Linked DNA regions of Homo sapiens. The protein of the gene in region 3 interacts with the protein of the main gene of each other region in a pairwise test. Each region holds a gene or a part of one and is shown on either strand. Other genes may lie near its edges.

Region 1 (3,655 bases), on a different chromosome or scaffold from region 3:
TGTGCAAGTCTCTGCTGCTCTCTTTGTAGAAGAGGCAGGGGAGGTACCCGGGTGGTGAGCTTGTGCCTGGGCCAGCCTGGCAAGGGTAGATGTGCAGACTTCTGTGGATGCTAGTGTGTGTGTATAACGTCTGTGTGGGTTTGTGTCTCCGCCTACATGTGTACTTCTGATAAGTCTGAGTGTGTCTGCAGGATGTCAGTCTGTCTCTGGGACATATCCGGGTGTGTCTAGGGGTGTAAGATGTGTATATGAGAATGTGTTTCTGACGTGGGGGTTGCAGCAGGGTCTGAGCCTCCGTTGTGTCTGTTTGGTGATGTGTGCGTGTGATAGAATGGGAGTTGTGTGGCTGCATGGGTTTGTGCACTTCTCTGAGTGAGTATCCTCTCTAATCTGTCTGGAGGCGTGCTTCTGAAAGCATCCAACACCAGCGAGTCACTGGATGGGTCTGTGAGATGTGTGCAAGTGGCTGTGTGTCTCTGAGCTTGAGCTGTGAACAGTATATGTGCATTTGTATGTGCAAGACAGAGTATGCCCAGGGACACAGGCTCAGCCCCAAGGAGGCTGCGGCTGGGACTCAGGGTAAGGAGCAGCCAAGAGCTTTGCTGACTGTGGTGACCTCCTCTCCTCCACCCAGTGACAGACTAGAGTCCTCCCCCTGTAGCTCCTGGGAGCCAAGAAGAGAAGAGCTACATGCAGAAGCCTACTACGTGGCCACTGGGTCCAGACACCCAGCACAGGGCCTGGTACCCAGGAGCCACTGGGGAAATATGTGTTGAATGAATGAATGAATGCCTGGAGGAACGGATAAGGGATCGGCAATGACTGGGACACACTAACACTCACTGTGCACTCCATCTGCGTCCTCACATTGAAAAGGGTCCTCACGGCCCTGGGCGGGCGTGCTTGTCCCCCATGTTACAGAAGGAACAATCTCACACACATGCACACACAAACATCCTCCACTAACCCCCACCTCCCCCAGGCTCCGGGCCCCCAGCATGCCTTAGCCTAGAGCCTGGCCCATGACAGGATTCCTCTCACCAAATGTGTCTCAGCCTAGACACGCTAGTTAACAACCAAAAGCTCACTGCTCTGGTCACACTGCAGAAAGAACAGGCCCAGAGTTAGACAAACCTGGGTTGGAATCCTGGCTATGTAATTTAGAGCCTCCATTTACTGATCTGTAAAATGGCAAGTGGGGATGGATTAGGTGCTTCCTCCAGGCCCTTCTGAGCTGACATCTAGACTGGCTGCACTTCACTCACATCTAGAATCACCAAGGAGGGAAAACACACACACACACACACACACACACACACACACACACACTGGCTGCACTTCACTCACATCTAGAATCACCAAGGAGGGAAAACACACACACACACACACACACACACACTGGCTGCACTTCACTCACATCTAGAATCACCAAGGAGGGAAAACACACACACACACACACACACACACACACACACACACACACACACACACACACACACACGGCAGGGAAGGTGATCACACCTTTCCGTTCTCCCTGGGGCAGCTACTGATGTATTAACATTCTAAAACTAAGGAAATCCACCCTCCTGCATTCTCCCAGTTCCTCCAAGAATGAAGACACAGACATCCTGTCTGCCTATTGGCTATGAATAATAACAATTCCTCAGGCGACTTGGGTTCACTGCTTGCAAAATGTTTTCTTGTCTATTCACACTTCCCTGATTCCTGATGACCATCGTATGAGGTTGTCCAGGCAGGTTCCATCACCTTTACTTATTTTTTTTTGAGACAAGAGTTTCACTCTGTTGCCCAGGCTAGAGTGCAGTGGCGCCATCTCGGATCACTGCAACTTCTGCCTCCCAGGGTCAAGTGATTCTCCTGCCTCAGCCTCCTGAGTAGCTGGGATTACAGGCGCCCACGACCACGCCTGGGTAATTTTTGTATTTTTAGTAGAGATGGGGTTTCGCCACGTTGGCCAGACTGGTTTCGAACTCCTGACCTTAGGTGATCCGCCCGCCTTGGCCTCCCAAAGTGCTGGGATTACAGGCGTGAGTCACTGCGCCAGGCCCCATCACCTTTATTATACAGATGAGAAAAAAAGCAGCTCAGAGAAGCCAGGTAACTTGCCCATGGCCACACAGTAAACGGGAGAGTCAGGTTTCAAAGTCAGGTCTTCAGACTCCAACTCTCAGATTCCTCCATCCACACCCAGTGGGTTCCTACATGTTCTGGCCACATGGTACGTGCTTAATGGTTAGTGGTGATGAAAGGCTGGAAGACCTCAGATCACCGGGTCTTTGAAGGTCTCAGGTGACGTGTCTGCTCGGCAGCTAAAGCTGCATCTTAGAATCCTGGCACCTCAGTAGTTAATAACCTTCAGACTTCCTTGGCTAGAAGGGACCCAAGGTCAGGCAGCTCAACTGCAGCCACCACATCAATCTCCCTCTGAACCCTTCTCAAGCAATCATTCCACAAACCCTCTATCTTTATCCAAGCATGCAAGGTCATCCCGCCTCTCTCTGAATAATTAAAGTGACAGTGAGCTCACTACCTTCTCTGTAGAAGCTCCTTCTATCTTCTCACTGGGAGAGAGTTGCCCGATTTATGCTTTCCTCACTTGGACCCCAGAGCAGACCATACCAGACTGGAGATCACAGTCCTTCGCAGTTGACAGTTCCCAGTGACCCCTACAAGGGGGAGGTAAGCCTGAGCAGGGCCACCCACCAGACCTGGTGGGACCTCCTTCAACTCTGCTCCTGCAGGGGACATACTGGGGATTTGGAGTCCTTTCCCTTGTACTCAGTTTCTGCATCTTAGAGGCAAAGTAGTCCAGAAAGGCAGAAAACACATCAAGAGTCTAACACATGCTTACTCCAAGCCCTGGCAGCCTAGCGACCCTGCTCTGGGACCCACTCTGGCCACAGTTTTCCCATCTGTGGAATAAACAACACAACACCTCCAGTAATAACCCCTCTATTTATGGTCCACATTTAGTCTCTGGATTTTGACCCTGCCTCTGTGAGGCTGGCGGCTGGGATAAACAGATATACAGAGAAGTTAAGGGACTAACCCAAATGTACACAGTGAGAAGTGGCATGGGCTGGCCTTGCTCTCCTCTCTTACCCACACTCCTTCCCCTCTCTGGCCTTAGCGCTGTTCTTGAACTCAACGAGCATTCCAATTTCCCTTAGCCTGAAATCTTCTTACTCCAGACCCTCACTCAGTTGGCTCCACGGCATCCTGCAGCCCTCAGCCTCCCTGTGCACCCCAGCCCCCACCTTCGTGTGCTCCTGGCAAACTGTCCCCTTTACCCTCATTATGATCTGTGTTGTGATTTCTTGTATGACTATTGTTTAATTCTGGTCTCCCCAAAAGCTCTATGAAAACAGACACCTCATCCTCCCTTGTCCACAGCTGTATCCCAGATCTGCCCTAGCACACGGCAGGTTCTAAATAAACAGCTGCCGAATGAACCAATGAGGGGCCAGGAGAAAGAGCCCAGCCTGCCTTGGGTGATGAAGAGGATCTATTCTGCCCTCACAGAATCCACAAGAGAACAGGCTGGGTGCACATGGAAACATGTCCCGTGCCTCTGACAAGAGCAGTGATCAGAGGTTTACTACATACCAGGTGCTCTAATGGTGTTTGCAGGAAT
Region 2 (3,655 bases), on a different chromosome or scaffold from region 3:
GCAAAACTACTAAAGAAAGCATAAAATAAATCTCTGAATTGGAAAAATCTCAAAGAAATTTTTGGGGACAATGTAATGTGAGAAAAGCAAAAGACTTTGGGATAGTTTATTTTGAAGCACCAAAACTCAAATATGTTAAATTAAAAAATATCAACACTTCAGTATGAGAAGCATAATAATTTTACTACTAACAATATTTGAACTATCACCCTTAAAAACTTTACAAAATGTTATGTCAATATTAAAATTAGTGGGCATTTATTGTATGCTATATTGATGCATGTAGTTTGATTGTTGGTATATATTATATATCTTGTCTTACCTCAACTTAATGTTATTAATAATTTATTTTGTTACTTTTATGGTTGTTCTGTTAAAAAAACAATGTTCTTAACAGGGGAAGGGACACATTTATGAATCAGAATCACCTGGAAAGATTCTCAAAGTACCAACGTGCCCGGAAATTCCATCACTCCCTACCTGTTCACAGACACACATAGCATTCAAGCATTTTCAATTGTGAAAGGGTAGAAGGAATGGAGTATACAATGTGTTTTTAAAAAGCTAGTTACTTTAAGCCAGGGGATGGCCAATTTTTTCTGTAAAAAATCAGACTGTAAATATTTTAGGCTTTGCGGGCCATGTGGTCTTTGTCACAACTATTCAATTCCACTGTTGTAGTTACATGTAGTTGTAACATGTAAACAACTAGGTATGGCTGTGGTCCAACAAAACTTTATTTATAAAAACATACAGGGGCCTGGATTTGGCTTATGGGCCATAGTTTGCCAACCCCTGAGGTAAGCATACATCCCATCTCATAAATATCTGTTGGTGTTCTATAAGTATAAAATATTTTTAAAGGCTTTCTGTGATCAAATAAGTTTGGGAAATACAAGTTTAAAGCTTTGCTACTCAGCGTGGTCCTGGGACCAGCAGGACCAGCAGGACCAGCAGGACCAGCATGACTTGAGAGCTTGTTGGAAATGCAGAATTTCAGGTCCTACTCCAGACCTACTAAATCAGAATCTCCATTTCAACAAGATCCTCAGATCATTCACATGCACATTAAAAGTTGAGAATCACTGCTCTGGAAATATAACCTTTGCCGTAAAGAAACATGTGACTAGGCAGAGCAGATTGCCAGCAATGTGACTTTAAAGTTCATAGTCCTTGTAGCTTCTGGACAAAGGTTTACAAAGGTTTCTTAGATAACAAAATAAATATTTTTACGTATCACATTACTATCCTACATAGTTCAAAACCACATTACCAATTTGAAACCTCCAAAGTCAAAGATAAAGAAGTTAACACCTATGTGTCCAGGGCTGGCATATTGAAAAGACATATATATGACACGTATTCATATGTACTTTTAGAACATTATACCTATCTCTAAAGCCCCCAAAACTTACCTAAAACTCCTATTAGTTGCAATAATTTATCTCCCTAGGTATTTCCTAATTTTTCTTAAATATTATAATTATGTATATAGAGAAAATGACTGGTAAAAGAATTTTTTTTTTTTTTTGCACAAACTTGAGGATTCAGCCCTTTCACTCATTCCAATCCCTCCACTGTTCATGGATTCAGTAAGTCAACAAATCTTTATTGAATACCCACTATGGAACAGGTCCTGAAGACACAAAGGTTAATCATACAGAAGAGCACCTGCTTTTACAACATTTACAGATATGTGTAAATGAACAGCAAGTCAAAAAAGAAGACACTTTATAGTTTGCAGTTTACCTTGATTTCATCAAGGTTATTTGGATTTTTCACTCGTCGGAAATAACTAGAGTTGATTCTACATGGCTTCATCCAGACAGGTTGATTTAAGTTGGGATCCTCAGCAAATATTTCCTCAAAAATCTCTTTTGTTAAATCAAAAACCGCCTTGATAGAGAAAAACAAAACAAAACAAAACAAAATGGCTAAGAATCCAAATTTCAGACAATGGGAGAAAAGTTTAAAAACTAAAATTATCCTTTTATTTCACCTACCTGTTTGTAGACCCTTTTACTAGTGCTTTCTATATCTAGACCTTTACTGGCACAGCCAAGCAGTTTTGTAGGAATACTGATGCTATGAAGATCGTGGCCTAATTCTTTCCATTTCCAAAGTTCTTCTGCTGCATTATGTACAAGAATCTCTACTTCTTCTGCAGTATGGGGGACTGCCAATAATGTTTCACATGGTTGTTGGGTTACTCTTTTAGGTTCTGCCATTAGAGGTACAATGGTTTCTTCTGCCTTATTTTTTTGGATCTTGTGAGAAGAGCTCAAACCAAAGTCTTCATCAAACCAGTCTTGATCATCTCCTAACGCGCTCAGGAACTCCCGGCTGAGTTCAAGTTCAGCAAGTCTCTTAGCAAGTTCTTCCTGCCCACTGGCACCAAATACTGGGCTCTCCTATAGAAATGGAACCATTCAAACAGAGCACCATTTAGGGACCTCATATCATTTTTTTTTAAAAAAAGACAGAGTAAATGCATTATTTATATATCTAATATTTCTCTATAAGTAAGCAGAATAAAAAACAATATGGTGGCTACTAATAAACAATCTAAGAAAAAGTTATCCTGTTCCCTCAATTCTACTTATATAAACCTTGCATATAACTGAATTTTTATAAAATGTTTATTGATTAGGGCTCTCCCCGCTTTTTGTATTATCATTATTCTGTTTCTAAAGAACTGTCTATGGGATATGGAAATGGGATATAAAATTTCTCACCTCTGGTGACCATCTGGCTCAAGTTACTCAAAGTCATTACTTTTGCTCAACTGTCCATGGGCAACATAAACAAGCTGATGGTCTGAGTGCATGTCATAGTGGATCTATTTCATTTTACCAGAATCAACATCACAACTGCTAACCTCTGCAGGCCAACCATGACTGAGTAGATATGTAAACAATTTCACAGGCAAAAAAGAATTGGGTGGTGAGCCACTGGAAAGCTCCATGGAACGAATTTGTTCAGTGAATCTGGAAGGAGATGTAATCTATGGACAGTACAGGGGTTGTCAACTCAGCAGTTTAAATGGATGTTTTAGTTCCCCAAAACCTGCCAGTGCTTGTGACAACCCTATATTGACTACTCATGACATAATAGAGGACAATTACACTTCAGCCAGGAAAAACAGCTACAAGGCCTTTAAAAACCAGTACAGTGATCCTTCTCTAATAAACAACACGTCAAGGGAAAAAAAACCTATCAGGAGTCACAGAATTAAAATGTACTATATAGGCAAGGTAAGTTGCCTTGTTAAAAGTGTCAAAAGGTATACTGATACTTTTTCTAGACGAAATACTCACCGGTCTGGGACACATATCTGGAGAGGAAATCTCTTCTTTTTCATCTTCCAATTCAGAACTTAAGAAGCAACCTGAAATACTTGGCGACTGTTCCTCAACATTTTGGGATAGGTCTTGGGGTGTTACTTTCTTTTGGTCATCACCAAGAAGCTCCTGATTGCTAAGCTGGATTTTCTCATCCCTGGTTTTTTTGATTTGTTGTAGTTGATTGACTGTGTCCTTTACAAAGACTTTTAGTAAACTGTCTGTCAGTAAGCTGATTTTTTCCAGTTGTTGTTTTGACTTTTTTTCCTCATTTAGTGATGACTTCAGCTGGGCTTCCAGTTGGTTTTTTTCTC
Region 3 (3,655 bases):
GTATCTCTTTGTAGTTGTAATTTCTTTATGCTACGCATGACATACAACCAACTTATCTATCGATCATCCTATAAATTTTACATAGTATAAGAAACAATGATAAGTATTCAAACATTACTTAGATTAGAAAAAGTATGACAACGTTAAAATTCTAACAGATAAAAAGCAGAGATTCCATTTTTTTGCATTAAAAAAGGGAAGAAAAATCACATATTAGAAGCACCAAATTACTGATCCAATAAAATTTCAAGACTAAAACAATATCTGTTCAATATATTTAAAAAATATTTTTGTTATTAAGATTAGAGAAGACAATTACTTCTAATTCATCTCTTAAGCATTAAAAGTAATTTATAATTAGAAAAACAATCCAAACTTACCTCATTTTTGTACTTAACTGTTGAGAAAGGCTTTGATCCTATCATACCTGGGAATATTAGAAAACGTAACTATATTAAACATATCTTTCTAATACTATAAAAAAAGAACAATTTCTTTTGTTTTTTTGAAATGAAGTCTTGCTGTTTGCCCAAGCTGGAGTGTAGTGGCGTGATCTCAGCTCACTGCAACCTCCGCCTCCTGGGTTCAAGCAATTCTTGTGCCTCAGCCTCTCGTAGCTGGGACTACAGGCGTGCGCCACCACGCCCAACTGATTTTTTTTATTTTTAGTAGAGATGGGGTTTCACCGTGTTGGTCAGGCTGGTCTTGAACTCCTAACCTCAAGTGATCCACCTGCCTCGGCCTCCCAAAGTGCTGGGATTACAGGCGTGAGCCATGGCGTCCAGCCAAAAAAAGAACAATTTCATGTATTTTTTTTTAAATTTATTTTTATTTTTATTTATTTTTATTTTTTATTTTTATTTTTTTTTGAGACAGAGTTTCGCTCTGTCGCCCAGGCTGGAGTGCAGTGGCAAGATCTCGGCTCACTGCAACCTCTGCGTCCCAGGTTCAAGCAATTCTTCTGCCTCAGCCTCCCGAGCAGCTGGGACTATAGGTGCACGCCACCATGCATGGCTAATTTTTGTATTTTTAGTAGAGATGGGGTCTCAACAAGTTGGCCAGCCTGGTCTCGAACTCCTGACCTCAGGTGATCTGCCCGCCTTGGCCTCCCAAAGTGCTCGGATTACAGGCATGAGCCACTGCGCCCGGCTTATTTTTATTTCTTTATTGTTTTTCACTCTGTTGCCCAGGTTGGAGTGCAGTGGCGTGATCTCTGCCTCCCGGGTTCAAGAGATTCTCTTGCCTCAGACTTCCAAGTAGCTGGGACCACAGGTGCGTACCACCACACCTGGCCAATTTTTGTACTTTTTTTTTTTTTTTTCAGTAGAGCCGGGGTTTTGTCATGTTGGCCAGGTTGGTCTTGAACTCCTGACCTCAAGTGATCCGCCTGCCTCGGCCTCCCAAAGTGCTGGGATTACAGGCGTGAGCAACCACGCCTGGCCGATTTCACATATTTTAAATGAAGTCTTCAGTTTCTAATCATTCACTTATTGTTTTCAGAATTGGAAAGCAATTACATTAAAAAGGCAACAAATATTTAAACAAGAGTATGGGGAAATGGGTTTTCTCAAACATTACTGGTATTAACATAATGTGAAATAATCCTTCAGGAGGGCATTTTGGCCGCAGTTATCCAAATGGAAAACATGTGCTTATTTCTCACCTTTTAAAATCCATTAAGTACTAACATATGTGTTTAGTTGTATGTATTAATAATGTTCACTATGGCATGGCTTATGACAGCATTCATAAAAAACTCTGGAAACAACATACATTATCCATCAATATGGAAATGGATAAATATATTACAGTTCCCTTATACAATGGATTCTTACACTGCATTGTTATGGAGAAAAAAGCAAATTATTGAAAAATAGATATAGGATGATCCCAGTTCTTGTTGTGGGGATAAAACTTCTAAAGTGTAAACATTGTGGATATTTATAATTATACACACAAGACAATAATTATTTTTGTTTAGGTATGGTTGACAGAGCTTTCACTTTTTACTTTATAAACCTGTGCTCTGATTCAATGTTAAGAGTGCCTGTTCAGAAAAATGCATTAAAATAACAAAAGAAACTCAATTATATATGTCATTCCATTTAGACATTCAGTCATGTGCCACATACCAATGTTTTGGTCAGCAACAGACTACATATACGACAGTGGTCCCATAAGATTATAATGCAGCTGAGAAAATTTTTTTTTTTTTTTTTGGGACAGTTTCCCTCTGCTGCCCATGCTGGAGCACACTGGCATGATCTTGGCTCACTGCAACCTCCACCTCCCGGGTTCAAGCGATTCTCCTGTCTAAGCTTCCTGAGTATTTGGGACTACAGGCATGCGCCACCATGCCTGGCTTTTTTTGTATTTTTAGTAGAGACAGGGTTTCACCACGTTGGCCAAGCTGGTCTTGAACTCCTGACCTCAGGTGATCTGCCCACCTCAGCCTCCCAAAATGCTGGGATTACAGGTGTGAGCCACTGTGCCCAGCCAGAGCTGAGAAATATCTATTGCCTAGTTGTTGCCCTCATGTCAGAGTGTAACACATTACCTTTTCTATGTTTAGATATACAAATAACATTGTGTTACAACTGTCTACAGTATTCAGTACAGTCACATGCTGTGCAGGTTTGCAACCTGGGAGCAATAAGCTATATACCACATAGCCTAGGTGTGTAGTAGGCCATACAACTAGATTTGTTTAAGTACACTCTGATTGTACAACACAATCACCTAACAATGCATTTCTCAGAATGTAATCTGTCACCAAGCGACACATGACTGTAATACTGTGGTCAGTCACAAAATAAAATGCAAAGCTAATTTACCTATTTCTGTAGTACCTCTTTGCTGCTTATGTTTACTCAGCCCTTCCATGACATCCTGAATTCGCCAAAGTTCTTTCTGAATCTGTGCACGCTGAATTCCTGCTGATTCCGTCTATCAGTAAAAATGGATAGACCATATATAAGAAAAAAAATCATTCACTGAAGTTAAATGATTATATATTAATTATATAAATTACATCTAAAAATGCAAATTGCAGTGAATTAAGTGTTACGAATATTTAATATGATTGATGTGACTCTCCCAATTTTGCAAGTCCAGTGGCAAATATAAAAGACTGAGCAGAGCAAGAAAAATATTTAATTTTCATACTTAAATATACTATTTTAAATCTTTCCAATAAGCTTTGTCTTACATTATTTATGATACCAGGAAGGCATATTGATTAAAAGGGACCCAAAATGGAAAATACAAACAGAGAGAATGAAAACAGAGCAGAAACAAACCCCAAAAGAAAAAATAATTTCTGGGAGGGGGAGATGTGGCAGGGCATTGGGGAATGGGTGAGAAATGGAAGGTGTACTAACTTCCTAGGTTCTAGAACATAAAAACAACAACAAAGGTACAACTAACAAAATATATCAAGATGAATTTTGACTGACAGAGTTTAAATGTATTTTTTTATTTTTATTTTTTTTTGAGACAGAGTCTTGCTCTGTCGCCCAGGCTGGAGTGCAGTGGCAAGCTCTCAGTTCACTGCAGCCTCTGCCTCCTGGGCGCAAGTGATTCTGCTGCCTCAGCTTCCTCAGTAGTGGGGATTACGGCACGTGCTATGCCATAATTTTTGTATTTTGTGCAACGA

The links.
Region 1: the proteins of PLEKHA5 (region 3) and MTCL2 interact in a two-hybrid assay, tested with the Homo sapiens proteins (one large-scale study listed by BioGRID and IntAct).
Region 2: the proteins of PLEKHA5 (region 3) and CEP350 interact in a two-hybrid assay, tested with the Homo sapiens proteins (one large-scale study listed by BioGRID and IntAct).

Annotation. Positions count from the first base shown.
Region 1 is NC_000020.11:36,857,023-36,860,677, forward strand, and holds part of MTCL2 (microtubule cross-linking factor 2), read right to left. Parts: intron 2,852-3,655; exon of another isoform or gene 2,552-2,851; intron 1-2,551. UniProt on the Homo sapiens protein: Microtubule-associated factor that enables integration of the centrosomal and Golgi-associated microtubules on the Golgi membrane, supporting directional migration. Preferentially acts on the perinuclear microtubules accumulated around the Golgi.
Region 2 is NC_000001.11:180,094,279-180,097,933, reverse strand, and holds part of CEP350 (centrosome-associated protein 350), read right to left. Parts: coding exon 3,318-3,655; intron 2,412-3,317; coding exon 2,004-2,411; intron 1,897-2,003; coding exon 1,750-1,896; intron 1-1,749. UniProt on the Homo sapiens protein: Plays an essential role in centriole growth by stabilizing a procentriolar seed composed of at least, SASS6 and CPAP. Required for anchoring microtubules to the centrosomes and for the integrity of the microtubule network.
Region 3 is NC_000012.12:19,342,614-19,346,268, reverse strand, and holds part of PLEKHA5 (pleckstrin homology domain-containing family A member 5), read right to left. Parts: intron 2,947-3,655; coding exon 2,835-2,946; intron 428-2,834; coding exon 381-427; intron 1-380.